Linked DNA regions of Homo sapiens: all the other regions are linked to region 3. The links come from fine-mapping of genetic effects on gene expression. A gene starts in region 3. Each other region holds a variant in brackets. All regions are shown on one strand. Distances are between the middles of the regions.

Region 1 (6,258 bases), 160 kb before region 3:
TTGTGGGTACATAGGTGTGTATATGGGCTATTTGGATATGGACATGCAATGCGTAATAATCACATCAGGGTAAATGGGGTATCCATCACCTCAAGCACTTATCCTTTGTATTACAAACAATCCAGTTATACTCTTATACTTTCTGATACTTCAGTTTCTCACAATGAATATTCCTTTTCTAAAAAAGAAAAAAAAAGGAAGAAACTAAGTCCCAGGCATATTAAGAGAGAGCTAATTAGCTGTAGAACTAATTCTGACACTCTATTTCCCAATCAGTATTATTCAGAATTATTTTTTACTTCCCTGTAATAGTTACTCAATTTTAGAGCCAGAATTTAGCCTAATCTACTCATTTAACCTCTAAGAAAACTGAGCCCAGGGGGTGCTAAGTTCCTGGAGAGTGGTCCTCAGGTGGTGACTGAGGACTGAGTTAGCCTCCTCCGGCAACCCTACCCCCGTCCCACCCCACCCCACCCCACCCCACCCCTGGGCAAAGTGAAAGTGAAGCAAACTGAGAGGAACTCCTCCACTGTCCCTTCTGCTTACTCAGCAGATGGGAGCCAGCCACTTTGTTTTGTCCTGGGGCCTGTCCTTGATGGCTTCTAAGACTAAAAATCAAAGCTGTAAATTTGTGTAATTTAGAGATTGAAGGTACTGATCGTTGTTGTCAGTGACTGGAAACCAGGCCTATTGAGCAAGAGCCATTGTTCAGTGCCTGTCAGCCCAGAGAGTGTGCCGAATGCACTGGCCATCTTAGACACAGATCTACTTGGTGGTGTTCTGTGTTTTTTCTCCTAAAAGAAGGCTTCTCACACCACCACTGATGAGAAAACAATTCGAGGAAAACGTAGGCACACTCAGTACATGAAGGGAGACACTATTAAAAGCAAAAAGAGGGTTATTGTCAAACTTAGAACGATGCTAATTTGAGTTCTGAGCTCTAAAACTGGTAGAATTCAAACATTAAATGTAGAATGTACTAGTATTCTATGCCTTAAACAGTTGAAAGGAAAGGCTTACATTGGCAAAATGTATTTCACACCAAATAATGATCCTAAATCAGTCTTTTGCAACGTCATAAGATGCAGCTTTGTAAGTATACTTTATTTCTAAACTTTACCAATCTCAAAGGCTACCTGGAGCTCTTATTTCTGAAATAATTTCAAGATGTTCATTCTCTACAGTTTTGTGGTATGATTAACTTCGAAGTCCACTGCAGACACAAATGAACTTTCCCTAAAATGCAACACGAGAGTACTAACTACAGTCAGTAAAGATGAGAGGGGGTTATTTTGTAGCTCTTCCTGCAGGCTGTGAGAATTTTTTTCGTTAAAAAATTCGTTAAAAAAGCAGGATATACTGCTTCAGTCCTTACCATGAGAGCCACTCCCATCGGAACATAAATTAGTCTTAGTATATTTCAGGTTCTCCCACATGTTCACATTCCAACTGGGTGCAACAGTTGACTTTTGTCTTTAACTTTCCTTGGCAAACCGATAGCATCAGAGGAAGAGATAAGCTGCCCCTTAGGGAGCTGATTGTAATGCGTTCCAGACGTCTGCACGCCCCTGGTGCAAGCACCAGCTTTCTGTTAAAGACTCAGGGTTATGTTGTTTGGATGTTTTGTTGTTTGCTTTTTGAAAAAGCCAGATCAGATTTTTGTCATTGTATAAACTCCAGTAGGAGAAGAGGGATGCGTTTTTAAGGTGATTTCTAGAATGCTCTGGCCGACTTAGCTGCAGAAGAAAAAGGAGAAAGGAAGAGACAGTGTATATTTTGGCACTGAAACTTCTTTAGTAACAATGCATTCATTCACAAATCTGGAGAGAACTGAATGTCTGCTTTTTAAAGTCTGAATTGAATTCTCGACTAGACTTTGAGACCCTGAGAAGGTTTTCAATCCAAACCATGCTTAATATTCACGTTTTATCATTATTGATGGAAAGTGAAAGAAAATTTGAATTCTTGGTAGCCAGATTTGACATTAGACTTTTACATTTATAACCTCACTTAAACTTTACAAGAAATCTCATTACAGGTATTATTATCCCCATTTTTAAAGCAAAAAAAAAAAAACACTGACCCTTGGAAAGAAGAACTGGCACTATTGAGATTCACACCACGTGTGGCTGGCTGCATCAGGGGGCTCATAAAGAATTCAGAGCTGGCCCCCAGCTTATCTTCCCCATTCCCTCTTCTCACCCCCAAGCTACCTCCATTAAAAGAGATGCCAGGCTATATTTATTTTATTATGTATACTTACGAATGCATTTGCTCATCTTTGGTGTCATAAAATACAATGAATAAACTCCTATCCAGTTTTTCAGTGTATTTCCTTAATTTTTAAAGCAATAAACTCCTTTAATCCTCCCTTATACTCAATACTAAAAAATGAAAGATCTGATTTTAAGCAGGAAAAGTTTTGTCTTAGCATATAGCCAGGAAACTTCATCTGCCTAGGTCCTGAAATGTAAGTGATCTGCCAGAACCAAGCGTGGGGGTAGCTCGCGAGGCCTCAGCCCTCCTGCTCCTGTGTGAGAGTGCTTTCTTCTGCAACCTGGCTCCTGGAAGGAATGAATGCTCCCCCTTCAGCCCCTACTCCCCACCAAGAATTTAAAAGATAAGAGGGAAACATTTCCCTGACTCTAAAATGGTTTGTTTTTAATATGGTATGTCCAGGCCTGCACTACTAAAATCCTTCATAAAAGTCCTCTAGAAGATAACGATTGTTCACATTGCAAACCTGTTTGAAAAGCCTGGAAAAAATGCGGTATACTGTAGGGAAAGTCAGTCTCCTTTTCTCACTTATATAATTTGTAAGTCTGTCATTTCTTTTTTTTTTTTTTTTTTTTTTTTTTTTGAGATGGAGTTTTGCTTTTGTTGCCCAGGCTGGAGTGCAATGGTGCGATCTTGGCTCACCACCTCCACCTCCCAGGTTCAAGCTATTCTCCTGCCTCAGCCTCCTGAGTAGCTAGGATTACAGGCGTGCACCACCACACCTGGCTAATTTTTTTATTTTTAGTGGAGACGGGGTTTCTCCATGTTGGTAAGGCTGGTCTTGAATTCCTGACCTCAGGTGATCCGCCCGCCTCGGCCTCCCAAAATGCTGGAATTACAGGCATGAGCCACCGCGCCCAGCCTAAGTCTGTCATTTCTAATATGCTCTCCTAGTTTTAGCTCAGTAGTAGCTGAGTATTATACAAAATAAGCTCTTTTTACTGCTGCTTAGCATGTGTCTGCGAACCCTAGCTCAGTACCTGGCATTCCATGGGCAGGCAAGAAAAGTTTGCAGAATGAATTAATCTGGCCCAAGTGTGACTGAGAGGCCAGAGGAGGTCAGTGGGTGCCGTCTCCCAGGCCAGCAGCACACACACAGCTTCCTACAGTCTCCCTTCTTGTCTTTGTCTCTTTACATCCTCTTCCCTTCCTCCCATGTGTCTCTAACCTGCCAATTGCACCAACATTTATTCCCTGCTGCAGAGCCTGTGGACCCACAGTCTGGCTTACCTTTATTTTCTCCATCTCCAGAATATGTCTCTCCTCCATACCCCCATAAATTAAAAGTGACTTAAATATATAAAATGGAAGAGAGAGGCAGGATAAAACTGTTTGATAACTTAATAGTACAACTGGCCAGTCTCTCGTAGATTTTTTGCATTCATTCCAAACCTGTTTTTTGTTTTGTTTTGTTTTTGAGACGGAGTCTGGCTGTTTCACCCAGGCTGGAGTGCAATGGCGCAATCTCGGCTCACTGCAACCT[CT/C]GCCTCCCGGGTTCAAGCAATTCTCATGCTTCGGCCTCCCTAGTAGTTGGGACTACAGGCGAGCACCACCTCGCCCAGCTAATTTTTGTATTTTTAATAGAGACGGGGTTTCACCATGCTGGCCAGGCTGGTCTCGAACTCCTGACCTCAAGTGATCCACCCTCCTTGGCCTCCCAAAGTGCTGGGATTACAGGCATAAGCCCCACGCCTGGCTGAAACCTGTTTCTATTAAAAGACTTATACCTTGGAACTTTAATAAGTAATTTATTAAAGAACCGTTAATATTAGACATTAAAATAATTATGACTCCCTTACCCCTATTTGATAAGCATATAGGTGACGTTACACTAAATACTATCCCTGTCTGCCAAAATAATCTAATGTTGAAGCAGTCCACCGCATTTCAGGTCTCCTGGAAATGTGCTGCGATTTTCTGAAAATTAGAGGCAACAACTTGCTGTTGAGGACAGGAAAAAAAGAGGAGGCTAAGACGCAAGGTCCTCTGAAGCTTCTGCCAGCTCTCTCACCAGAACCTAACTCTTGATACCAGTGGAGTGAATCTGGAAGTCTCCTGCCTTCCTGAGTGAGTTGGAGACGTAGACACTACCTGGACAGGCTGGAGAAATGAGGGACTTAAAACGTAGCACACCCCTTGCCCCATGCCACCTGACTAGAAATGCCTGCCAAAGGTATATGGACATGCAAGGCTGGCACAGATGTAAAGCTCAATATATTAAACTAGATAGCAAAGAAATATACACCAAGCCCAGCAATACAAAGCACCCTGCCTTCATGCAGTTAAACATTCTTCTGTTTTAGGCCACACTGTACTTGCTGGCTTCATGTGGCTTCATGAAGGCAAGTGCTGTGTCTGTTTTGATCACTACTAGATTTCTGGCACCCAACATGTAGTAAAAGCTCAATCAGTATTTGTTAAATTCATTGAGAGAGCTGGGAAAGAAGGTAGAATGAAAAGAAAAGAAAAGAAACAAACAAAAACACAAGCCTGGGCAACATAGCTAGACTATCTCTACAAAAATTAGCCGGGTGCAGTAACTCACACCTGTAGTGCCAGCTACTCGGGAGGCTGAGGCAGGAGGATTGCTTGAGCCCAGGAAGTCAAGGCTGCAGTGAGCCGTGACTATGCCACTGCACACTCCAGCCTGGGCAACAGAGTGAGACCCTGTCTCAAAAGGAAAGAACCATCCACAAAGTTAGTAGTGCCTACAAGAGTGTAGTTGCTCTTTAAGCTTGAATTTTTGGTTATTTTGCAAGAGGTATTATTTGCCTTAAGCCATGGTAATTAGATTTATTCTGCTTTGTGGGCTTTTAGATGAGTTAATCGGCTACAATTTCTCTTAATTCCCTCTAATGCTTTCTAGGTGTGGATATCAAGAAACCTACATGTTGTGTTTAGAATATTTTATGTATCACAGATATCAGTGGGTAGTAGACTTTGCACTGGAATTGCCCTTTTCCCTGCCTCAGTTGTTTTTGGTAATATTAACTCTTTATTTACTGTTAAACTTTACAAAAAATGTCAAGTTTACTTTTTAGGACTAATAAATTAGTTTTCATAATTTTAGCCATTTAGGAAAAACAGAAGAAACCACATTGCAGTGTAAAGGGAGAAAAGTCACACATAGCTAATTATTGATAGGAAAATGAGAAGTGAGATAGCAACATCTGAGAGGACTTCATATATGAGCATCTCACAGAGTAACTTTTTCTTTTAGCCAGCATAATTACTAGCTTTTCCCATGTGTGTACAGACATTTTTTTCCTTAGAAATTTTGGCCTTAAAAGTCAAATACAGGTTGTTTTACAGATGATCAATGGTCCTTCTAGAAGAAGTCCACAGAAGCTCTCAGATGCCCTCTAGACCAGCCTTTACTCACTCCTCTGTCAGCATCCTCCCTCCCAGCTCGCATTTTACCAAAGCTAGAAAAGACCCTCAAGGGCCTGGGTGCGTGGAATTATTAGAGACCAGATAAAAGACATGTAAGGAGTGCTGGTGTGGCAGATGCTGCGAAAAAAATGTGCCACAACCTCTGAGGGCAGGAAACTGAAAGACCTCGTGTGGTTTGGAGGCCTGAGGAAAGAGCCTCAGGAAGTGATGTTTGACCTGACATCTGAAGGCTAAATGGGAGACAGAGACAGGTGTGCAGTCAGGAGGAATCGCACATTGAAGGGAAGGGCTGAGACTCTGAGAATGGGGGTGGGAGGGAGAAAAGAAGAGGCTACAGGGGGCGACCAGGCCTGGTGGGCCAGGTGAAGGAATTTGGAGTTGATCCCAAGAGCAAGCGAAAGTCACTGGGGACAGGGAAGTCAAGAGTCACAGGATTCCATGTGGTTTTTGAAACTGGCTGCATGGAAGAGAACAGCGTGTGGGAGAAGTGTAGGAGAGGGAAAGGCAGGACTCATGATGGTTGAGATGAGACGGATGGAGACAGGCAGCTCTGACTTCTGCGGTTCTGACTTGTGAAACAGGATCAGG
Region 2 (6,258 bases), 39 kb before region 3:
ATTGAATGTACTGTAATAGTTTACCATCACCTAGCACATTCCATCAGTCCTTTGCAAGGACAGTCTCATTAATTAAGTAGGAATATGATAGGAATCACCACACTTCAGCCATTAAGTCACTGAGACTGACATTAATCTCTGCCATTCTACCAGGATATAGTATTATTTCCGATTTACTATCTTGCAGAGAAAGAGAAGGGTCAGTGGTTTCTATTTGTCTTTTCCTACCATGATAATTCTCTCTCCATAAGTCAAAGAACCAGTGTGATGGTTCTGCCTGTTATTAAATATGTCCATGCTGATTATGCATTCAGGAAGTGGGAAAATGACCACAGAGTATGTCTAGGGACACAGTGGACCGAAGTGTAAAACAGATTTGGGCCAGCACTCCATTCATTACCCCATCTCCACATGCTCCCATTAACATCAGAGCCACTGTGGTGTTTTGGGTACCCAAGCAACAATGTTAGCTTGACTGTATTCCCAAGAATCTTTGAAACACCTGGTTAGATTCCTTTCTCCAGTGTACTGTTACTTGGACAAGTGAGCATAGATTCCTTTGAGAAAGGTTGGACAGCTGCTCTGTGTACATTTGCTGTATTATTGCAGGGTTCTTCATGAAGGAGACCCTTCAATTGATTAGGTCTGGATCAGAGAACTGGTCCAAGTCTGGGAACTGAGCAAAAGATCATAATTTTTCATTACGGTAAACAGAATGATCCCCCTAGAGATGCCTATTCTCTAATCCTTGGATCCTGTGAATTTTACGTGACATGGCTCATGGGATTTTGCAAATATAACTAAGGTTATACACTTCAAAATATAGATTATCCTGGATAATCTGGCTAGACCCAGTATAATCACATGAACCCTTAAAAGCAAAGAAATTTTTTCTAGCTGGTCAGAAAACAGCAGCAGAAGGATAGAGTTCAACAGATTCAAAGCATGAGTGGGACTCAACCTGCCACTGCTAGTGGACTGAGCCTCCATGTTGCCCATGGAAACATGAGAAGGAATGCAGGCAGCCTCTAGAAGCAAAGACTGGCTGCCGGCTAACAGCAACAACAACAAAAACGGACCTCTCATATTTAAGAGATCCCGCTGATCTACATACTCTTCAACTTTGCAACTGAAATTGTAGTCCACAGACCAGTGGAATCAGCATCACTTGGAAATCTGTTAGAAATACAGCATCTCAGGCCCCACTCCAAATCTACTAAATCAAATGATGCATTTAAAAAAAGATTCATAGGTAATTCCTGCTGATGTTGGAGAAGGCCTGCCCTATATCAATTGATATTATCAGACTTATTAATTTTTGCCACTCAAATGTCAACGAAATTTCATGTGGTCTTGATTTGCATATCTCTAGTGTGAACACAGGTTCAACACATGCTGGCTATGTGTTTCCTCTTCTATGAAACGCCTGTTTTTTATCTTTTGCCCATTTTCCTAACGGGTTATCCTTATTGATTTATTGTTGCATTATATATTCTTGATACTGACTCTTTATTAGTTATCTATATTGCATAAACTTTTTATCAGTTTGTAATCAGTCTTTGCTATCTTTAAGGGATTTTTTTGATAAATAAAAGGACTTAATTTTAATATAGTCAATTTGACCAAACTTTTCTTTTTTATGTTTAAGAATTCCCGCCACACCCCAGAATCAGAAAAATATTCACTTCCATATGTTCTACCAAGCATTTTATTTTGATATTTAAGTACTTTTTTCCATCTGGAATTTACCTTTGTGTATCATGTGAAGAACCAATTTCAATTTCTTCCCTACCTGATTTTTGTTTTATGTCCTCATCAATCCACAAAAGAACATTTTTTTTGAATAGACTATTTTTTTCAAATTATTATTATTTCAATTTTTTAAGGAACAGGTGGTATTTGGTTACATGGATAAGTTATTTAGGTGTGATTTCTGAGATTTTGATGTATCCATCACCTGAGCAGTGTACACTGCACCCAGTGTGTAGTCTTTTGTCCCTCACCCCCCTCCCACCCTTCCCTGCAAGGCCCCAGAGTCCATTATGTCATTCCTAATGCCTTTGCTCCCACTCATAAGTGAGAACATATGATGTTTGGTTTTCCATTCCTGAGTTACTTCACTTAGACTAACAATCTCCAGCTTTATCCAGGTTGCTGCGAATGCTGTTATTTCATTCCTTTTTATGGCTGAGTAGTAGTCCATGATATATATATATATATACCACATTTTCTTCATCTACTCGTTGGTTGATGGGCATTTAGGCTGGTTCCAGATTTTTGCAATTGTGAATTGTGCTGCTATAAACATGCGTGTGCATGTGTCTTTTTCATAAAATGACTTCTTTTCCTCTGGGTAGATACCCAGGAGCGGGATTGCTGGATCAAATGGTAGCTTTTGGTTCTTTAAAGAATCTCCATACTGTTTTCCATAGTGGTTGTACTAGTTTACATTCCCACCAGCAGTGTAAAACTGTTTCCTTTTCACCATATCTATGCCAACATCTATTATTTTTTTATTTTTTAATTATGGCCATTCTTGTAGGAATAAGGTGGTATCACATTGTGGTTTCGATTTGCATTTCCCTGATAATTAGTGATGTTGAGCATTTTTTCATATGTTTCTTGGCCACTTGTATATCTTATTTTTTATCTTTTTTGAGACAGGGTCTCACTTTGTCACCCAGGCTGGAGTGCAGTGGTGCAACCCTGGCTCACTGCAACCTCTGCTTCCCAGGTTCAAGCAATCCTCCCAACCTCAGCCTCCCGAGTAGCTGGGATCACAGGCACACACCACCATGCCCAGCTC[A/ATT]TTTTTTTTTTTTTTTTTTTTTTGTATTTTTAGTAGAGACAGGGTTTCACCATGTTGGCCCTGGTCTCGAACTCCTGACCTCAAGCGATCCACCAGCCTTGGCCTCCCAAAGTGCTGGGATTAGAGGCATGGGCCACTGCACCTGGCCCATTTGTGTATCTTCTTGTGATAATTGTCTACTCATGTCCTCAGCCCACTTTATGATAGGATTATTTGTTTTTTTCTTGCTGATTTGAGTTCCTGTAGATTCTAAATATTAGCCCTTTGTCAGATGGATAGTTTCTGAATATTTTCTCCCACTCTGTGAGTTGTTTACGCTGCTGATTATTTCTTTTGCTGTGCAGAAGCTTTTTAGTTTAATTAAATCCCATCTATTTATCTTTGTTTTTGTTGCATTTGCATTTTGGTCCTTGGCCATGAACTCTTTAGGCCAAGGTCTACATGAGTTTTTCCAGTGTTATCTTCTAGAACTTTTATGGTTTTGGGTCTTAGATTTAAGTCTTTGATTCATCTTGAATTGATTTTTGTATAAGGTGAGAGATGAGAACCCAGTTTCATTCTTCCACATGTGGCTTGCCAATTATCTCAGCACCATTTGTTGAATAGGGTGTGCTTTCCCCCACTTTATGTTTTCATTTGCTTTGTCAAAGATCAGTTGGCTATTAAGTATCTGGCTTTATTTCTGGCTTCTCTATTCTGTTCCATTGGTCTATATTTATACCAGTATCATGCTATTTGATAAGTATAGCCTGTAGTATAGTTTGAAGTCGGGTAATGTGATGCCTCCAGATTTGTTCTTTTTGCTTAGTCTTGTTTTGACTATGCAGGCTCTTTTTCGGTTCCACATGAATTTTAGGATTGCTTTTTCTAGTTCTGTAAAGAATGGTGATGATATTATGGCAGGAATTGCATTGAACTTATAGATTGCTTTTGGCAATATGGTCATTTTCACAATATTGATTCTACACAGCCATGAGCATGGGATGTGTTTCCATTCGTTTGTGTCATCTATGATTTCTTTCAGCAGTGTTTTGTAGTTTTCCTTGTAGAGATCTTATACTTCCTTGGTTAGGTATATTCCTAAATATTTTATTTTCTTTGCAGCTGTTGTAAAAGGGGTTAAGTTCTTGATTTGATTCTCAGCTTGGTTGCTGTTGGTGTATAGCAGTGATATTTATTTGTATATACTGATTTTGTATCCTGAAACTTTACTGAGTTCATTATCAGATCTAGAAGCTTTCCAAATGAGTCTTTAGGGTTTTCTAGGTATACGATCATATCATCAGCAAACGGTGACAGTTTGACTTCCTCTTTACCAATGTGGATGCCCTTTCTTTCTCTTGTCTGATTGCTCTGGCTAGGACTCCTAGTACTGTGTTGAATAGAAGTAGTGAAAGTGGGCATCCTTGTCTTGTTTCAGTTCTTAAAGGAAATACTTTAAACGCTTCCCCATTCAGTATAATGTTGGTTGTGAGCTTGTCATAGATGGCTTTTATTACCTTAAGGTATGTTCCTTCTGTACCGATTTTGCTGAGGGTTTTACTCATAAAAAGCTGCTGGATTTTGTCAAATGCTTTTTCTGCATCTATTGGGATGATCATTATCTTTGTTTTTACTTCTGTTTATGTGGTGTATTGCATCTATTGGCTTGTGTATGTTACACCAACCTTGCGTCCCCATCATGAAATACACTTGATCATGGTGCATTATCCTTAATATATTGTTGAATTCAGTTAGCTAGTATTTTGTTGTGGAGTTTTGCATCTATGTTTATTGGGGATATTGATATGTAGTTTTTTTGTTGTTTTTGTTATGTTCCTTCCTAGTTTTGGTATATGGGTAATACTGGCTTCATAGAATGATTTAGGGAGGATTCTCTCTTTATCTTTTGGAATAGTTTCAGTAGGATTGGTACCAATTCTTTTCTTGTTGCCTGTGATGGAATCCAATGGTGTGATCTCAGCTCACTGCAACCTCCACCTCCTGGATTCAAGCAATTCTCCTGCCTCAGCCTCCCAAGTAGCTGGGATTACAGGCACCTGCCACCACATCCAGCTAATTTTTGTATGTTTCGTAGAGATGGGGTTTCACCATGTTGGTCAGGTTGGTCTCAAACTCCTGACCTCAGGTGATCCACCTGCCTTGGCCTCCCAAAGTGCTGGGATTACAGGCGTGAGCCACCACACCCAGCCCCAATTCTTCTTTGAATGTTGATAGAATTCAGTCATGAATCCATCTGGTCCTAGCCTTTCATTGTTGGCGATTTTTTAATTACTCTTAATCTCGCTACTTGTTATCGGTCTGTTCAGAATTTGTTTCTTCCTGGTTTAATCTACGAGGGTTGTATATTTCCAGGAATGTATCTATCTCCTCTAGGTTTTCTAGTTTGTGTGCATAAAGGTGTTCATAGTAGTCTTGAATGATCTTTATCCATTCTGCCATTCTGTATCTTTTAAGTGGACCATTTACACCATTTATAGTCAACTTTAGTATTGAGATGTAAGGTACTATTCTATTCATCATGCTAGTTGTTGCCTGAATACCTTGGGCTTTTTTTCATTGTGTTATTGTTTTATAGATCCTGTGAGATTTATGCTTTAAGGAGGTTCTATTTTGGTGTATTTCAAGATTTTCTTTCAAGATTTAGGACTCCTTTCAGCATTTCTTGTAATGCTGGCTTGGTAGTGGCGAATTCGCTCAGCATTTCTTTGTCTGAAAAAGACTTTATCTCTCTTTCATTTATGAAGCTTAGTTTCACTAGATACAAAATTCTTGGCTGAAGAGAGGCTAAAGAGAGGACCCCAATCACTTCTGCCTTGCAGGGTTTCTGCTGAGAAAACTGCTGGAAATCCGATAGGTTTTCCTTTATAGATTACCTGATGCTTTTGCTTCACAGCTCTTGAGATTCTTTACTTCATCTTGACTTTTGATAACCTGATGACCATGTGCCTAGGTGATGATGTTTTGTGAAGAATTTTCCAGGTGTTCTTTGAGGTTCTTGTATTTAGATGTCTAGATCTCTGGCAAGACCAGGGAAGTTTTCCTTGATTGTTCCCTCAAATAAGTTTTCCAAACTTTTAGATTTCTCTTATTCCTCAGGAACACCAATTATTCTTAGATTTGGTCATTTAACATAATTCCCAAATTTCTTGGAGGCTTTGTTCATTTTTTTTATTCTCTTTTGTCTTTGTTGGATTGGGTTAATTCAAAAGCCTGGTCTTTGGGCTCTTATGTTTTCTTCTATTTGTGCAATTCTATTGCTGAAACTTTCCACTGTATTTAGCATTTCACTAAGTGTCTGTTTCATTTCCAGATTATGATTGTCTTTTCTTTATGATATCTATTTCTCTGGAGACTGTTTCTTCCATATCCTTTATTTTTTTTTAATTTCTTTAAGTCGGTTTTCACCTTCCTCTGGTATCTCCTTGAGTAGCTTAAATAATCAACCTTTT
Region 3 (6,258 bases):
ATTTGTTAAGCATCTATCTAAGATGGCAGGCCTGTGCTAATCTAGAACCTAAAGATTAAAAAAGTAATGTCATGAGGCCTGGCTTTCATAGAGTTGGTCTAATGAAACTGGGATGCGGGAACAAAGAGGAAATAAAGTACTACTACAGAAAGTTAATTTTAAAATTTTCTTTTTAATCAACAAAGGGGGGAGGGCTTTTTCAAGTTATAAAGGCTCTGTAAGATTCATCTAATATTTATAGCTTTAACACTGAATTCATGCTACCCAATTCGACAGTCTTCTGGGTTTTATATTCCTTTTTTGAAATTTATGTCTAATTCTGTCAGGTTTTTGTTGAATTAGTTTCTTTGGCCCTGAACGGGAACTCTTGGGTTTCTTCTTTTTAAGTGCTACGGATGCACTATGGCACATATATTATAACGACTATTATTCAAACCTGACCATCAGGAGAGATGAGACAACACAGGAAGCTATAAAAATGCTAAAACTACAAACCACGGGGGGAAAAAAACACTTTTTACTAAAAGCAACTGTTACTTACCACTTTTAAAAAATGGTTAAATGCCAAAAAAAAACTACACTTCAAAGGAAAACAAAGCATTCCCTATGTAATCTACCATTTTAATACTCTAAAATGTAGGATTGTTTTTAAAAGCTAAAACAATTCTTTATTTTCTGTCTGACCTTGATAAATATGCTTACACCAACACTACCCCATCAAGCCTTTGGAAACAGTAAGCGACCCGGGGAATTATACTTTCTAGATGAAAACCAATCACTCATGGAACACGATTCAAAGGAATGCAGGGCCCAAAAGCATCCTGTGTCTCTCTTACTCTTGGTTTTCACCCGAAGACTTGTGTCCACAACCACCTTTGAAAGCCCAACTAATGGCTTCAATCCAGTCCAGCAAACACTGATGGCTTGGGGTGACACAGTAAGGGTCACCACTCTTCCCCTCCTTTGTTAGAATGGTAAGGAATATGAGCTTCAAGAAGCATTCACTGACACTCTCCCTGACCTATAACTTACAGAATCTTTTTTCTTTTAGAGAGCCCAATAGTCTCCCAACCAGCACTGAACAGGTGATACCAAACCGATCAATAATGTTAACTTAAAAATGAACAGCCACACCTGGCGTCTATAGTCCCAGGTCCTTGGGAGACTGAGGCGAGAAGATCTCTAGAGCCAGTAAATCAGGAGTTGGGGTCCAGCACGGGCAACATAATGGGAAGCCCTCTCAAAAAAAAAAAAAAAAAACCAGATACACAAAAACAGTAAGAGCCACAAGACGCACCCCTAGGCCTCTATTCTCCCCATGCCTCCCTGATAGTAAATGAAGTATAATTTTGTCCATTCTGGTGATTAAACAAATAGCATCTTCGGATCTAACGTCCTATTTCTCCCTAAACTCAATGAAGAGTTATATTCACAAAATGACTAATCCATTCATAATAAGCCGGAAATAAAAAACCCTGAAGTTTAAATGCAATAAAAAAGAATTTGGCAGAACAAAGTTCAATTGTCCATTTGCAAAACTCACCAAAACAATTTAATAACATTAAAGCAAACCAGGTATATCTCAAAACTGGCTGGTACTCAAAAGGGTTTCTCTATCAAACACTGCTTTGTGCATTCGCGCAGGGCCAAGGCACGGCCCTTGGGCAAAACTGAAGGGAGCCGTTGGTACCTGCACTCCCACCTTTCCTGCCTGAACTCCTTTCGACCCAGCCCTGTCTCCGGGGGCCGAGAACTCGCCCTTTTCCCTACATTAAAAGTAAACTGTTACGTGGCTCTCTCCCACAACAGGGAAGCTCCTCAGCGTTAGCACTAGCCGCAGGGCGGAGGGTGCGTATAGCGGGGCCTCAAAAGACTACGAGGTCTCAAAGAACACCCCAAGTGTTCAGCCCTCGGCGGCAAGCTGCGTGGCCGGCATTCTGCGAGGCATAGGGAGATCGCGGGTTTCTGCACGAGACGCATTCTACCCTTGGAACGGGAGAGCGCCTGCACGCGGCTACATCGAGTAACCCTAGAGCCCTAAAGGCCAGACCCGCTCTTTTTACAAAGGAGATTTTCTTTAGGCGCCTGGACCGCGGCCATACAACTGGACAACTCCAGTTTGGTACCTACCGCCGAGGTCACCGGCGGCGGCTTTGGCCCCTTCCAGGTTTCTGGCAATGACCGCCAGTCGGTAGCCTTTCCGGGCCATTAACTGGGCCACAGCTCTGCCAATGCCTCGGGAGCCTCCAAAAACAGCACACACTTTGTCCATCTCGGAGTCACAAACTCGGAGGAAAGAGGGTAGGGAGTGGGAGCCCCTCTCCAGGTTCCCTCAGGCTTTTAAACAACCGCGGTTCCAAAAAAAAAAAAAAGAAAAAAAAAGGCAAACCGCAAAAAAAAATAACGCCGCTCGACACCTCCTGCAGCCGCACAATAGTAATGCAAGACGCCGTGAAAAGGAGGAAGAGCTCGACGTCGCCGCGTCGACGTCATCACGCACGGACTCTTCCGCGCCACACCTAACAAATACGCCGACGAGAGCTCCCCGCCGGCGGAAGAATGGCCTGGAGAGGGCCTCGATGCTTGCTGGGACCTGTAGTCTTGACGCATGAGAGCAACTGGCGCAGGCGCGCTGCTCGGTGGGGAATGTACTTGTGGCACTGAGGGGGATCCTCTGTCCCCGCTGGGTCATATCAGTCGGGATTCGAGCCCCGGTGACCAATCGACCCGGTTTGTTCGGAACTGACAGGGTTGTCAAGACGCTGGGCTTTCCCTGGCAAACCAAGACGACCTGATCACGTAGTTAGAACCCAGAGAAAGCATTACTGGGCGTGAGCCGGTCGGGGCTCCGGTATTTGCCCTTCGCCCAGGTGTTGTTTTGGCTACAGACTTGATGTCCTACCTGTTGAAGAAGTCCCCAAGAATCGCACCCACACCAAAACCTACCCTACCTGTTCCTCCCCCAGGTTGCTGTAGAAATGGACCTCTACCCGCCCAGATGTTACCATTCATCGCGAAGGGTGTCGTGAAGATGAATGCCCTGTCGAACATCATCCAGCAGGAGGTCAAGGAATTTTAACTGAATGATTGAATAGTCTTGCAAGATCTATGAAACAAGCTTCGGCTGCTGTAGAGAAACAAAAATGGGTTCCTGCAATTCTAAATAAGATGTACTGGGTGCTCTGAGAGTTAATAAGCTAAAAAATTCAATGTTTGTTACAATTATAGTGTAAACAGAAAGCATTTCTGATACAATATTATTTTACTAGATTCAGAAAAGTATGAGCCATGGTCCCTACCACTAAAAAAACTACAACCCAGAACTACAGGACTAATACACATGAAACACTAGGAGGTATCCAAAATCATACTTAGTAAAATGCAAAATTATATTAACACAAGAGCTCCGAGAAAATGGAGATCAGTGAAGAATGAAGGGGTGCATGGAAAAGCTGGATTTGAGGGCTGGATGAGGTTTGAAAAAAGGAAAACAAGAGCAAAAAGTCTATAAATAAGCAAGTTGAGCATTAATTTAAATTTGTTATTCCTATTCCATTTAGATCCAAAAAAAGATTTGAAATGGTTTGCAAAAATACATGAGTATTTGAATTTAAAAGGCAAAGAGGACCACTGCCCCTTCTCCCACAAGGCCAGAACAATAAATTAGGTCAGTGGAAAAAATACGAATAAAGTCATGCTATAAGAATCTATTTAGTATTAAAGAAGAGATTCATAAACTTAGAGTTTCCTGCCAGCGAAAGCAACAAAGGAAATATAATTACAAGTGGTAATTTCTGTAAGAAATCAGCCTCCTGGTTATGCAGCAGAGAAGCCTGAGCAAAACTCCCTCCTCATAGGTCCTCCTAAATGGCACACTAAGCATTGTAGTAGACAGTGAGCTTCATGAAAAGAAAAAGAGATTGTAAGGCTGTTTTCATAGCATCTATTAGACTTTATTAAAAGCAAATACAATAGGAAGTTAAACAATATAAGCAAACAGTCACACATAAAAATTGTGTCTTTGAAACAATATATGTTTGAAACAATGAGGAAACAAGCCTGAGGAAATTTGGGATGGTGCTATATTATAGTCAGCTTTAAAGTCAGGTGCCAAGCATTAAACAGGCCTTTAACTGCAGAAGTAATAAGATAAGAGCTGCATTTAAGAACTATTAGCAGGCCAGGCGTGGTGGCTCATGCCTGTAATCCCAGCACTTTGGGAGGCTGAGACAGGAGGATTGCTTGAGTCTAGAAGTTCAAAACCAACCCAGGAAACACAGCAAGACCCCCACCCCCCCGACCCCCATCTCTACAGAAAATACAAAAAAAAATTAGCTGGACATGGTGGCCTACCTGTGGTCCCAGCTACTCGGGAGGCTGAGTTGGGAGGATCATGTAAGTCCAGGAGGTCAAGGCTGCAGTGAGCCATGATTGCACCACTGCAGTCCAGCCTGCATGACACAGCAGGACCCTGTCTCAAAATAACAGTGTTCTAAAAAACAAACAAACAGTTTCCCAGTGATGTAAAAATGGGTCAGATCAAATTTGTCTATTCACTTTCCTACTATACACTATGCAATCTTGGAAAGAAAAAACTGTTTTACATAAATTACCAATATAAGGGTCAGCCTAAATGCCAACTGTATTCCTGCACCTTAGGTCAAACCAGAGAGGTTTATCTTTTGAACAGTTCTCTCCATTTGCTAGGAAAATGATTATTTTTTTTTCTACACATTGTTATTTTAGCAAAAAAAAATGGTTTTTAGATCTATGCCATCTATCATGAAGATCACTAACACATGATATGAGGTGACATTCAGAATTCTGAAAACCTTCCAACTTTTCTCACTGTATATATACTGTAAATGGATAAGCTGGGCTTTTTATTCAACACATACCTCAGGTTAAACCTCAAGGTTATTATTTATTTTTTTTCCCTCTTAATACAATATCACCACTATCCCGGGTGAGAATACATCTATCACAGCACATCACCCATTAGCTGAGAAGGTTACAGCAGGGGAAGTTTCTCTGTAAGCCCCTGATAGTGAAGTGAGGATCTGTAAATTAAACTGGGTCTCCCCTACCCAGCAGGACATTGAAGGAAGCCATTAGAATGACCCACCTTTAGTCTTTCCTTCTCACTAAACATGCCACTTTTGTGGTAATATTTTAACCATATGTTATACTTTAACTTAAATCCACATAGGATATATTTTCTCTTGGCTCCCACAATCGAAGGAGAAAATTCCTTATGTATAAGGACTGTTATACAAATTTTTAAATATGCATACCTAGTATTACTTTTCTGATTACAAAAGGAATACCATTTAATTGCTAACAGTTAGAAAACATAAACTTTTTAAAGTAAATAAAAACTCATTGAAAGCATTGTACACTTTAAGCGTGTGAATTGTATCGTATGCAAATTATATCCCAATGGAACTGTTATTGAAAAAGATGTAATTTAAAGCCTACTGCCCTGTTATACGAAATTTGAATCTGCAACTAATTATAAGGGGGTTGTACCTTTCATGAATATTTTTTTCATACGTCAAGATTTATAATGCCCAAGATTCCAAATATGCAGGAAAATTTATTTATAAGAAATTTATGAATTATGATTGAATATTCATTGAGAATCCTCTTTACAAATGCACCATACTAAGCACATCCAGCTTATCAGATCCATAATTGAAGCATAACCCTTCCTGCCAGCAAGCAGTCTCCCAGGATTCTTCAGGCAGTGATGATAATCTGCACGACCCAAATTGCATGTGGCCAGCTAACTTCTCCATACAGACCATGCTCTTCTTTCAAGAAGAAAGATTAGAAAGCTGCCTTAGTGTGGCTGCACAGATATAACTTTTATGATTAAAAAGCATGTTGATTTCCTCATTGGCATTCTTGTATCCAATCTGCTGGGTAATCTAAATTGTAAGGAATGTACTTTTTATCACTTACAAAAGTTTATTTCATTTTGATTGGGAACAAAAAATGTGGCCCATGAGCTTGTTATTTTGTTGAATTGGCGTTTATGCCTCTGAGGCTGCCCACCGAGACCTAAACCTGGCACTCAGTTGCCTAAGGCAGAAGCATGGAGTTTATTCCTTCCCTCTCTCAACATCCCACATCCAATCAGTCACAAAGTCCTGCTGATTCTACTCCCTAAATACCATTCCAACTTCTACACATCCATGCTTCTCCAAACACTGTCTTCTCAACCTCGAATGCTCCCACTGCTTTCCCTGGTAACAT
Region 4 (6,258 bases), 80 kb before region 3:
TGTGTAGTAGTGGAAGATTTTAGGTATGTAGAGCAAGTTGAAAATGGATTGAGACTGCATGGTGGCATAAATGAGAAATTGCCTGTAGCATCTAGTCTACTTGAAGGAAGTGGAGACATAAGGAGAGACAAAAACAGGTTTGTGCCATAAAGTATTTTTTCAAAGACACCAAGATGTGGTAAATGAAAATTATTAGTTCACTTCCCTGCTGCCATGAAACTTTGCCTTAAGAAGGTGCTGGATTCCAAGGTTTGTAAAGGCATCTCGGTAAAGACTGCTTTTTGAATGCATATGATTTTGCATCAGCTAGACTGAGTTGATTCTGACCAGACTTGATGGTTTTAAGTCGGAACCGATAAATTTTAAAAAGGAGAAAAAATAATTTGACCTAGTAGTATAAAACATGAGGCTTTAATGGTACTTTGCTATGAAAAGAAAACACTGTATTCCTTATGCAAAACACATGTATCTTTCATTATTTATAAGTGGCCTCTCTTAGCTCAGTTACTCAATTCATACGTAGTATTTTTTAAAATAATTTTATATCTGTGTACCACCCCATATATTTCATATTACTGTTTCACATGTACAGCTTTCTACTTCTTTGTAAGAACACCAACCAACCAAGGTTTAAGTGATTAATAGGCTTGAGCACCGGGTGGCAGATGTTCTATGCAGTGTGGTTCAAGTTTCTTTGACCGCACTTATATGCATTGCTAATATGGAATTTAAGATACCATACACAGTCTCTCATGGACCTATCTCTATTGTAGAATTATGACTTATGTCTTACTTGCCAAATTTTTCTGAATGTGACCTTTTTTTGCTGATTTGCTGGGTTTGGGATTAACTAGCATTATTTTGCCACCTTTATATTGTATTTATAAAAAAAAAAGTACTATCAATCAATCATACTACTTTGGATTGTTGTGCTGGTGTAATGTGGATTTAACATCAATAAATATTTGACAAATAATAGTTGCAGTTTTGTGAAGCAAAATAAATATTCAGTTTTAGTTTTCTGTTGCTGCCATAACAATTAGCATAAACTTTGAGTGATGTTTGAGGCTTCAGCATCACTCATTTATTACTCACAGTTCTGTAAATCAAGTTCGGGCAGGATGTAGCTGGGTTCTCTGTTCAGGATCTTATAAAGCTAAAATCATTGTATCAGCTGGACTGTATTCTCATCTGGAGCTCAAGATCCTCTTCAAAATTCAAGTGGTTGTGATAGCTCTGTGCAATTGTAGAAGAGACGTCTCCTTTAGTCCCTCAGCCAGGAGCTCTCTCTCTCAGCTCCTGAAGGCCGCCTGTATTCCTTGCCATGTAGCCCGCTCCATCTTCAGGGTTAGTGGTGAGAATCTCCTTCACCTCAGATCCCTCTCACACTTTCTCTTTGTCAAAGGCCCAGTCCCTTTTAAATTACGTCAGGCCCATCCAGATAATCTCCCTTTCTTAAAGTCACCTGACTTTGGGAACCTTAATTACATCTGCAAATCCCTTCAAAGCAGCAGCTAAATCGCCATTTGATTGGAATAACTGAGAGAAGGTGTGTATACACCAGAGGATGGGGATATTAGGGGCCATCTTACAGTTCTGCCTGCCACAGCAATGTACTGTAGGTATGCATGTAAATACACACCAGTGCCATGACGTACAAGGATACATAAAATACAGCAAGATGATATAAATTAAAAGTGAGGGGAAAAGGAAGAAAGTAAGTATAAATGGAACAAGGAATGAGATATTACACACACACACACACCCATATTCATATACACATATAGCATTAATATCTACATAGTTACAACAGACGGACAACATATTTGGGCCTAGGCTTTCCTACTACGGGAAAGAGAAAGCTGGTCATTTATCTAATTCACAGCCTCCATAAGGTGAAAATATTTCATCTTTTACATATGCAATATAATGGAGCTTTGAGGATACATTTGAATTAGACTAGAATTGTGTATTTCACATTGTCTTCTATACCCCATGACTTGCTATGTAGTTTACAAGATTCATTATATATTTTAATGCTGAATTTGTCCTTGATTTTCCCTTTTATGAACATGCATAACATGACAATCCCCTTGGCTTGCTCAGTAGCTACAACCTCCTTTATCATCATGTAAATTTAGTTTGACCCCTTTAAATTATAGAAATACAACTTCTATATTATGGTGGTGAGGAACTTGAGTGTTGGAGTTGGCCAACCAGGATTTGAATCCTAGCTCTTTTGATCATGTGTGACCCATAAGCAAGTTACTTTACCTCCCCAAGCCTCAGTTTCCTTATTTGGAAAATGGAGATTAAAATAGCACCCCTCTCTTTGTGCTGCTGTGAAGATTATATGGGATGATAATTTTGACATGGTACCTGGCACATAGTAAGAGCTCAATAAATTTCAGCTATTATTTTAGTGTAGTTGGAAACTAAAGTAAAATTTCAATTACAAAATGTGTACACACCTAACAAAATTCCACAGATGGTTAAAATTTGTGAACTTGGATGGGAAAAACATTACCCCCTAGCTGAAATTTAGAATTTCCTTCAATTATGAATGTAGGCAACAAAACACAACAGTATAAAATACCTGGGACTGTCCTAGTAAAAATTATATTACAAATATTGAAATATCTTAAAATCCATCTAAATTCAGCATTACTTCAAAATTATGGCAGTTGTTAGAGTTACCAATAGATGTAATTTATAGGCATTTGTATTATAAATTTGTTTTTAATACTTTGATAATTACTTAAAAATAATTTGTTTTA[T/G]GTATTTTATGCCTCCATGAACATTATTTTGAGAAGGGATCCAGAAGATTTACCAGAGGGTCAAAAAGGCATATGGCACCAAAAAAATTAAGAACCAGGCCCTACAGAAGCTTAAATACGTAGAAAAGGATAAAAAATTTGAGGAAAGCCTAATTTGTCATTAGTAGAAGAAGGAACAAAACTAATTAATTCATACAATGAAATATTACTTACTATTCAGAGTTAAAGGTAAAGAAATGGATTTACTTCTATTGGCAGGGATAAATATGAAAAACAGCATTTGACGAGGAAGGGAAGTTACATAAGAGTGATGTCAGCAAGATGGCTGACTAGAGGTTCCTGGCATTCATCCCCCCAAGAAAGGATCAACAAATGAACAAACAGTTAACATTCAACTGAAGTGTCAAAGGAAGAGCACTGGAGTGCAGTGGGGGTAGCTGCGGTCACTGAAAGTCCAGAAGGCAGCATGGAGACACCTTGTCTCTGCTGCCCATGCCCCTGCATCCCCCAACTCTGACTGGCCTGGAGTCAAGAGGAGAAACTTTCCTTTGCTGGGAAAACGTAAGCAGAGCCCCATCAGCCCCCATTACCACTGCAAACACCTACAATCCTTACTACAGGAGAATTCCACAGTCCTCACAAGCCCTGAACCGACTTTAGAGAGCCACTGTCGATTGCACAGCTGCATTCCTCTGGATTAGGAACATGAGATATGTACTCTCCACCCCTTAGGTGCCTGCTGTGGGGCCCAGTAGCAAATGCACCTCTCCAGCCCAGCGGCTCTGTCATTCCACCAAGCACACATGGGTGGCTGCAATGCCACAACCCTGGAGGCTCAGAACCTGGGCCCAGGATTGGCTGTGACTCTGGTTCTGCACAGCAGGAAAACCAACCATCATTGCCTGAACTTCCAGGCAGAGAAACAGTCTAGCAAATTCTCCCAAAGCATACATACCTACCCTTGAGCTGGCCAAACTGGGCCCCTGAGCTGCTAAGCACCTGACATGCCCTCAGGCCAGAACCAGTACCAGCCTATCTCCTAAGCCTGAGAAACAGCCCAATGCCCCCTACCTCCATGGACATGCCTCCAGGCCTACCCAGTGGAACTGTGCCCAGGCTAGGGTATGAGAAACAGTCCAGTGGGCCCAATCCCAGCATACATGTCCCTAGACCTTCCCAGCAGCCCTGTGCCCATGCCCAGGGCCTGAGAAACAGCTTGGGAGATTAACTTCCAGTAGACACACCCCTGGGCCAGGTGAGCTGTCACATGACCATGCCCAGGGCCTAAGAAAGAGCCCCATGGGGTCAACCCCCATGGACACACCCCCTGGCTGGCTGAGAGGCACACCACTGTCCCAAGCCCAAGAAACAGCCCACTTGGCCCACCTCTGGCAGACACACCCCCAGGCCAAATGAGCATGCCTGTACCCAGGGCCTGAGAAACATCCCTGTGGCCCCAATCCCAGCAAGCAAGACCCCAAGTTGGTTGACACCGTTCACACACATGCCCCCAATTTGAGAAACAATCCAGTGAGCCCACCCCAGCAAAGCTGCACCACCACTGCTACAAATTCTCACAGCCTAGGCCACTGGGCACTTACAAACATCAGCAGACTGGATTACAGCTGAAGAATCTGCACAGACACTACAGTACTGCATCCACCTAGAACCAAAGCCAACACACCCCCCCTAACTGACACTATAAGATCCTCCAATACAAATACGTCTTTCCCTACAAAACCTTTCATCAAATTAGAAGAGGTGACTGTTCTACCAGATGCATAGAAATCAACATCAAGGAACATATCAAACATGAAAAAACAAGAAACCATGATACCTCCAAAAGAACACAATAATGCTCCAGTAACACACCTTAATCATAAGGAAATATGTGAAATGCCATAAAAAGAATTGAAAATAATAATCTTAAGGAAGCTCAGTGAGGTAAAGAGAATATAGCTAAACTGTTCCCTCAAATCAGGAAAGTAATTCATGATTTGAATGAGAAATTCAACAAAGAACATAAAAAAAAAAAACCCAACAGAAATCTTAGAGTTGAAGAATTCAATGAATAAAATAAAAAATGCAATCAAGAGCTTCAACAACAGATTAGACAAAGCAGGGGAAAGAATTTCTGAACTTGGAGGTAGGCCTTTTGAAATAACTCATGCAGACAAAAAAAAAAGAATAAAGAAAGCCTACAGAATGTATGGGACACTGTTAAGTGAACAAATATTTGCATTTTGGAACTCCAGATGGAGAAGAGAAGGAAAAAGGTATAGAAAACAGATTTAATGAAATCACAGCAAAAAACTTCCCAAGTTTTGGAAAAGAGATGAACATCTAGCTCTAAGAAGCTTAAAGTCCCCAAAGAGATTCAACCTAAACAGTTCCTCTCTGAGGCACATTATAGTCAAATTGTCAAAAGTCAAATACAAAGAAAGAATTCTAACAACAGCAAGAGAAAAACGTCAAGTCACATATAAGGGAATACCCATTAGGCCAACAGCAGATAGCAGAAACCTTACAGGCCGGGAAAAAAAGAAATAATATATTCAATGTACTAAAAGAAAAATATTGCCAGTAAAGAATATTGCTTTAATATTCTTTATTAAATATAAGCAAAGCTATTCCTCAGAAATGAAAGAAAATAAAGTCTTTTTCAGATATGCAAAAGCTAAGGGAAGACTAGCCTTACAAGAAACACTCAAGAGAGTTTTAGATCTGGAAGTGAAAAGACAATAACCACCACCATGATGAAAACAAATGAAATTATAAAATTCACTTGTAGAGCTGATATACAAAAGAGAAAGAGAAAGGAATCAAACCTTATCACTACAGAAAACCACTAAGCCACAAAAATAAACAATAAGGAGGATTAAAGAGAAAGGAATATACAACCGGAAAACCATCAATAAAACGACAAGAGTTAAGTCCTCACCTACCAATAAATAACCTTGAATGTAAATAAATTAAATTCCCCAATTAAAAGACGTTGAATGAATGAATGAATAAAAAAACCATGCAACTATATGCTGCCAAATAAAAACTCACCTCACCTGTAAAAGACACACAAAGACTGAAAGTGAAGGGATGGAAAAAAATAATCAATGCAAACAGAAACAAAAAGTGAGCAGAAGTAGCTATTCTTATGTCAGATAATACAGGCTATTTAAGTAAAAAGTGATAGAGACAAAGAAGGACATTATATAATAATAAAGGTATCAATTCAGCAAGAAGACATAACAATGGTAAATATATATGCACCCAACACTGAAGCACCCAGATATATAAAGCAAATATTATTAGATCTAAAAGGAGAGATAGACCTCAATAAAATAACAGTTGGGAACTTTAACACCCCACTTTCAGCACTGGACAGATCATCTAGACAGAAAATCAACAAAGAAACATTGGATTTAAACTGTACTACAGACTAAATGGACCTAACAGACACCTACAGAACATTTCACCCAACAGC
Region 5 (6,258 bases), 150 kb before region 3:
TCTTTGGTCAGAACCAGTATTACAAAAGAACCTAAGAATTTCTGCTTTCTCATCTTTCTGTTTACCATAACACAGGCATATATCCAAAAATATATAGAAAGCAAAAATTTGGAGAGAATGACATGCGCTTTCCTAAATGCACCTTAATGCTTTCCCTGGTGTTACTATTACTACTGTTGGAAGCATCACTGTTGAAATGAGCCTGTACGTCACACACATTGCTCCCCACACAGCAACACTTCTGATGAGGGCAGCCCCCTGCCTTGTTATTCATTGAGAAATAGAAACTCTGATTATTTAGAGCAAAATTTCAGATTTGAAGAAGTTTTCCTAATAAGGAAGAATGATGTAATTTTCATGGAGGGGGGCCAGGTTCCCTTCATTTGTTTTATTTATATTAGCTGAATTCCAGGGGAAAATGGGCTATGAAGCATGAGGGCTGCTAACTATATTTAGCCACACAAAGTTAGTACATCAGGGGTCATTTTTTCTTTAAGTTATACACTCATAAATGGGCTGGAAGATATTTTTCCCGGCATCTTGTTTTTATAAAGTTTGATCAAGCATAAATACTTTTATTAAGATGCTATCTTTTATTTCGAGTGTGAAGAAAGTATCCATTGTAATCTCTTTAATTTGGCATGTTTCTCTGAGATACTGGTTTTTGGGTCAAAAGATGGATAACTAATAACAATACCTTGGTTCAGAAGATTGTATTAACTTTCCAGAGTGCTCACGCCTGTCATCCCAGCACTTTGGGAGGCCAACTCAGGAGAATTGCTTGAGCTTAGGAATTGGAGACCAGCTTGGGCAACACAGGGAGACCCCATCTCTACAAAAGTAAAAAAATTAGCTGGGCACGGTGGCACATACCTGCGGTTCCAGCTACTTGGGAGGCTAAGGTGGAAGGATCACTTGGGCCTGGGAGGTCGAGGCTGCAGTGAGCCGTGATAGTGCCACCGCACTCCAACCAGGGCAACAGAATGAGACCCAGTCTCAAAAAAAATAAAAATTAAAAAAAAAAATCCAGAGTGGGCTTTAAGAAGGAAGCAATAGTAGTTTCTTGGAAGAAAGATAATGTGTGTTTAAGAGTCCCGTTCTGCCCATTGTCTGGCACTATTCAATCTGGATTCACTCCCATCCCCCTCACCTTACTCTAAATATAAAAATAGTCGGTGCGTCTTAAGACAGTAGACTATCATTTTTGTACTTTTGCATTAAGACTTTTATTTAAATGTATTTATAAACTGGAGAAAAATTTGTAGCATTTAAACATAAAACCTCAGCGTTATAATTGGTCATTCCTTCCTCTTGTCAACGTGTTACAACATTTTTGCTTTGCTCTGTTACATGACTCGGGGCTTACCTGCATTTCACGTGAGAGAAAAGTCAAATTCATCTCCACCCCACAGCCTGCTATCTTCTGCCTTTTACCCTAAATCTTTGGAGGCGACAGCTTCCTCCCCATGACTGATAGTTATCCATGCTCACAGCTGCTGGCAGGACTGACTCCTTTACAACTGTGGCCTTGTAGTTGATCTGAACAGGATGATCCTGTCTATGGAAGCGGAGTCTTCTCTCACTGCCTGAAGGAGAAGGCTCTGCTGGAGATGGAGGGCTCTCATCTGTCAATGGGTAGCACCGACGGTGCCCCAGACATGCTGACCATGTGTGGATGTCTTAGAAGAGTGGAAAGGCTTGAGAAATGCAAGCTTAGAATCATTTCTAATATTACTTGATGGGAAGTCAGCAAATAGGAAACTTGTAAAAAATTGGAGGACAACTTTTTGCCACTATCATGGACAAATCTATCACCACTACCCCAAATATCGGTCCCTCAGAGACCAAGTCCTTAGATTCTGAGGCTCTGCTGTATAATTCCTGTTCAGTAGAGCATCTGGCGAACCTCTAGTAGGACAAACAGACAGTAACCCTTGTGAGAAGTGAGGGAACTTTTAGAACTAGGCCTCAAGGAGCACTGTACAGTAGAAACAGAATGTGAACCACCACAATGAAGACCACATATGCAGTTTGTTTTCTAGTAGTCACATTAAAAAGGAAAAAGAAATTAATTTTAATAGTACATGTTGTTTAACCCAATATATTCAAAATATTATTTTAACATGTAAATAATATAAAAATTGTCATAAGATCATTTTCCAATATCTTTTTAAACTAAATTTTTTAAATCTGCTGTGTACTTGACACTTACAACACGTCTCAATTCTGACTAACCACTGTTCAAGCACTTAATAGCTACATGTGGCTAATGGCTACCATAGTGGGACAGTGCAGGTCTGGAGGATGTGAAATCGGGTGAACACACAACCTTTACACCCGAAACAGTGCTGCAGAATTGATGATAATTACTCTAAATGCTCATCTCTTATCTTTTCGCGTCTGAAAACTGCTGCTGAGTGTACAAACCAGGTAACAGTAATAAGGGCCAATCCCAGTGGTAGAAATGGAGTTGATATGGTGGAGAAGGATCTGTTGACACCAGACCCTCAACCACAGCCATGCACAGCTGGACAGAAGCCCCCTCGGACTCCCAGGTCTGGAGTCGGGGCAGAGGCAGAAAGTCTAAAAAGAAATACATCAGTGTAGTCATTTCAGTAATAAATGCTGTGAAGTAAATAAAACAAGATAGTAAAAGAGAGATGGGAGTACTCTTCTTGCTCACTCCAATAGTTGAGTGAGTCATCTGGGAAGTAAGTTGTGCTGTGGAGTGTGAAAGGTGATTTTAATTCAGCCTGAGAGCCAGGCGCAGTGGCTACTGCCTGTAATCCTGCACTCTGGGAGGCCGAGGTGGGCAGATCACTTGAAGTCAGGAGTTTGAGGCCAGCCTGGCCAACATGGTGAAACCCTGTCTCTACTAAAATACAAAAATTATCTGTGCCTGGTGGTGCACGTCTGTAATCCCGGTTATTTGGGAGGCTGAGGCACAAGAATCACTTGAACCCAGGAGGCGGAGGTTGCAGTGAGCTGAGATCGTGCCACTGCACTCCAGTCTGGGATGACAGAGTCTCAAAAAACAAAAAATTCAGCCTGAGGAAAATACTTCCTCTAGTCCTCAACGTGACTAAAGAGATCCTCATTTTTCTTTAAGAGAGAATTTCATTATTTGAAAACACAATGCCCAAAGAAATGGAAGAAATTGAAGAAGCTGGTTTCTATGTACTTCAAATAATATTTTGGTGTGAGGCCCCACATGACAACATCTTTCCCCCAGGATACCACAGCTGACATAGCTAAAATATGAAGTATGGCCTAAATAATACACAGTGAGCTGATAACTTAGGAAATATTTTTTGTTTGTTTTAGCCAAGGCAAACGAATTAAAAATTTTAATGTTTTGTTTCCATATTTGCTTAAGTAAACTTCAAAACTAATTACTTGCAAAGAATTT[T/C]GCCTCGGCTACATGGATGACCAGTGAATGCTTTTGGGAGTGTAGGACTACACTGAATAATCGAATAAATCTATTGAATATGGAATTAAAAAAAAAAAACTAAGTAAAAAAGCATTAGAACCACCATACAGCTTATATCTATATGCTTATTATGTATGGGCTGGCTTAGGAGGGAACTTGAGAAATGGTAACAGTATTTGGTTGATGCTGGAGAGGGAAATTGGACTGGGAAGAAAAAGTAAGAGATGAAGATGTACTTTCAGTGTTCTCTTTATATCTTTTGCATTTTGAAGAGCAGAGGTTTTTAATTTTGATGAAGTCCCAGTTCATCAATTTTTTTTCTCTTATGGATCACCCTTTTGTTGTCTTATCTAAGAAATCTTTACCTAACTTATGGTCACAAAGATTTTCTCCTATGATTCCTTCTTGAAATGTTATAGTTTTAGATTCACATTTATGTTGAAGATTTTTTTTAATTTTTTTTTATTTTTTTAGAGATGGGGTCTCGCTCTGTCCCCCAGGCTAGAGTGTTGTGGCTGCAAGATCATGACCTCCTGAGCCCAGTTGATCCTCCCATCTCAGCCTCCCGAGTAGCTGGGACTACAGGCATGCATCACCATGCCCAGCTAATTTTTTAGTTTTCTGTAGAGACAGGGTCTCACTTTGTTGCCAATGCTGGTCTCAACCTTCTGGACTCAAGTGATCCTCCCCCTTCGGCCTCCCAAAGTGCTGGGATTACAGGCATGAGCCACCATCCCTGGCCTGTTGAAGACTGATATTAGTTAACTTTTGTATAAGGTATCAGTTGTGAGCTGAGGTTGGAAATCCAATAGGGTTTGGAGGGGTTTTTTGTTTGTATTTAATCATGTGTATTCTTTAAAAAATAGGATTTAATTTCAAGAGATTAAAAAGAAATATTGTATAGAAATGTCTGCAGTTATAATAAGTAGTTCAATTTTAAAAAGAAAAAGTTGTTTTGTTTGCTTTGTTTTGAGACAGGATCTTGTTCTGTCATCCAGTCTGGAGTGTAGTGGCATGATCATGGCTCCCTGCAGCCTTGTTCTCCTGGGCTCAAGCAAGTAGCTGGGACTACAGACTCACACCATCACACCTGGCTAATTTTTTTTTTTATTTTAGCATAGACGAGGTTTCACTGTGTTGCCTAGGCTGGTCTCAAGATCTGGGCTCAAGTGATCCTCCCACCTCAACCTCCCAAAGTGCTGAGATTACAGGCATGCAACACTGTGCCCAGCCAAGAAAAAAGTTTTATTATGACTACTGTACTGATTTTCAGGAACAGTCATTGTGCTTTAATTCTCTAAGCCAAAAATGTCCAATTCTGTTGGGCAAAAAGACTATGTTGTTGATTGCGCTCTCTCATATGGTCCCTTGCCTTCAGCCATTTTCATAATCAAAACTTGATGGCAGTATTTTGTTACAGGGTAAGAAACTAAAAATGGTAAAAGCCATTTGTCAGGGTAAATCTGAACTAATTATTTAGATCAGCTGAAATAAAAAGGGTTACAAAGACAAGTTTTCTGTCTTCAGGAGGGGATGTGGATACTAAAACTTCAATGGAAATGAAAAGATATGGATAAATTTGCATCTGCCAGATCTGCTTAGGGAAAGCATATACATGAAGTGGAGGAAGTCTTCCCATATCCCTTACATAAGGATTGAGATCTGCTGCCAGAGACACATGTTGCAATATCAATAGAAGGTCGTCAAATTGCCTTCCATGAGGGAGTGGGTCTGTTTAATGCTATCATTTTGTGACATTGAGAACACGTGAGGCCACCCACACCTTCTCTGCCCTTCACCAGAGCTGGGGCCAGCCTCTTCCGATAAATGCTAAATAATGACTATCGCTTTGAAGGTGCACTTATTAGCAAGGGAGTCCATGTGTCTAGGGTTCTTTTACGCCATTACAGTGTATGAATAATGTACATTTGACGGGGGATGATCCTCTCACCCTACTCAAGTTTGGAACCATTTGACAGATAAACTGAGGAGTCAGAAAGAGATCCAAGCACCAGATTTGTACTGGGGAGAACTCAGAGAAGAAAGGGGATGCACTGCTGGGCCTCATGAGTTGGCTTATACTTCACCTTGAGCTAAGCATACTAATACCCAGTCCAGGCAGCATTGAACAGCTCCGCGCAGATCTCACCCTCCAAAAAACAGGAAGAAAAAGCCCTCTCACTGCAAGCAAGATCCAAAGAGAGAAGAGCAAGGGAGGGGCTGATGTGAGCATGCCCAGATCCATCCCCCACCCATATTCGCCACCAAGGGCGGAGACAGGCAAAGAGGGCCCCTGTCCTGGAAATCCCTCCATGAGGAAGCAGTGAAGGATGCAGGGCCCACTCTGTCAGTGTCTAGTGTTCCACTGATCCTACATAGTAATTTTGAAAGACGATAGCATGATGTTCCTGAAAGGAAAAAAAAAGTTTCCTCTATGAGGTCATTAACATATATCTTGAGTGACTTTATTGTCTTCTGGTTCATTTTGACATTTTTGTAAATTCTATAGATCTTTTATTTACTCCTGTGATATATTTTAAAGATCAACAAATGTCCACACCAAAGAAAAAAATCACCAGTAAGTTCGTAACTTTTATATTTCTATACTTTTAACTGTTACATTAATCCTGTCTTATTCAAAAGGTATTCACCACAAAAATACTTACTAATCTTGGTTTCCTGGTATGAACTCCTTGTGCTTCTGAGATTAGAGATACGCTTTTCTTTACGGGTGGCCACAATCAAGAGATAAGATCATGCCTAAAAGGACAAGTTAGGAACAGAAGTGTGATTAAGTATATTCTGTATTAGTTTTAATTAGGACTATA

Which allele goes with the higher level. Alleles are on the strand shown, and positions count from the first base shown. SD is a standard deviation of normalised expression in the study named. Not every link is listed here.
As copies of ATT replace A in region 2, the expression in monocytes after Pam3CSK4 of the gene that starts at base 2,438 in region 3 goes up (large effect, 0.94 SD a copy in Quach 2016).
In carriers of allele T in region 4, the expression in esophagus mucosa of the gene that starts at base 2,438 in region 3 tends to be lower than with G alone (moderate effect, 0.44 SD a copy in GTEx).

The links.
Region 1: its variant is fine-mapped to the expression of CBR4 in monocytes (TOPMed, PIP above 0.99).
Region 2: its variant is fine-mapped to the expression of CBR4 in monocytes after Pam3CSK4 (Quach 2016, PIP 0.95).
Region 4: its variant is fine-mapped to the expression of CBR4 in esophagus mucosa (GTEx, PIP 0.97).
Region 5: its variant is fine-mapped to the expression of CBR4 in monocytes (TOPMed, PIP above 0.99). The same link has a PIP of 0.9 or more in blood mononuclear cells and whole blood.

What each region holds. Positions count from the first base shown.
Region 1 is chr4:168,847,692-168,853,949 of GRCh38, forward strand. All of the region lies in intron 10 of PALLD (palladin, cytoskeletal associated protein), which reads left to right. It overlaps LOC102723331 (a long non-coding RNA gene), which reads right to left. Exons shown (of 2, transcript XR_007058358.1): 2 at 1-6,258. Among named protein-coding and RNA genes, the nearest start is that of CBR4, 160 kb to the right of the region's middle. The variant CT/C (reference allele first, on the strand shown) is at 3,761.
Region 2 is chr4:168,968,630-168,974,887 of GRCh38, forward strand. It overlaps a transcript of CBR4 not described here. Among named protein-coding and RNA genes, the nearest start is that of CBR4, 38 kb to the right of the region's middle. The variant A/ATT (reference allele first, on the strand shown) is at 2,807.
Region 3 is chr4:169,007,818-169,014,075 of GRCh38, forward strand. It overlaps CBR4 (carbonyl reductase 4), which reads right to left and starts at 2,438. Exons shown (of 5, transcript NM_032783.5): 1 at 2,131-2,438. The coding sequence starts at 2,272. CBR4-DT (CBR4 divergent transcript) reads left to right here and starts at 2,612. Exons shown (of 2, transcript NR_185919.1): 1 at 2,612-2,639; 2 at 2,967-3,243. RefSeq lists enhancers at 1,439-2,388, 2,488-2,817.
Region 4 is chr4:168,927,442-168,933,699 of GRCh38, forward strand. PALLD (palladin, cytoskeletal associated protein) reads left to right here. Exons shown (of 22, transcript NM_001166108.2): 22 at 1-1,000. It also overlaps a transcript of CBR4 not described here. Among named protein-coding and RNA genes, the nearest start is that of CBR4, 80 kb to the right of the region's middle. RefSeq lists an enhancer at 3,387-3,888. The variant T/G (reference allele first, on the strand shown) is at 2,778.
Region 5 is chr4:168,857,784-168,864,041 of GRCh38, forward strand. The region is part of intron 10 of PALLD (palladin, cytoskeletal associated protein); the gene reads left to right. It overlaps LOC102723331 (a long non-coding RNA gene), which reads right to left. Exons shown (of 2, transcript XR_007058358.1): 2 at 1-6,190. Among named protein-coding and RNA genes, the nearest start is that of CBR4, 150 kb to the right of the region's middle. The variant T/C (reference allele first, on the strand shown) is at 3,410.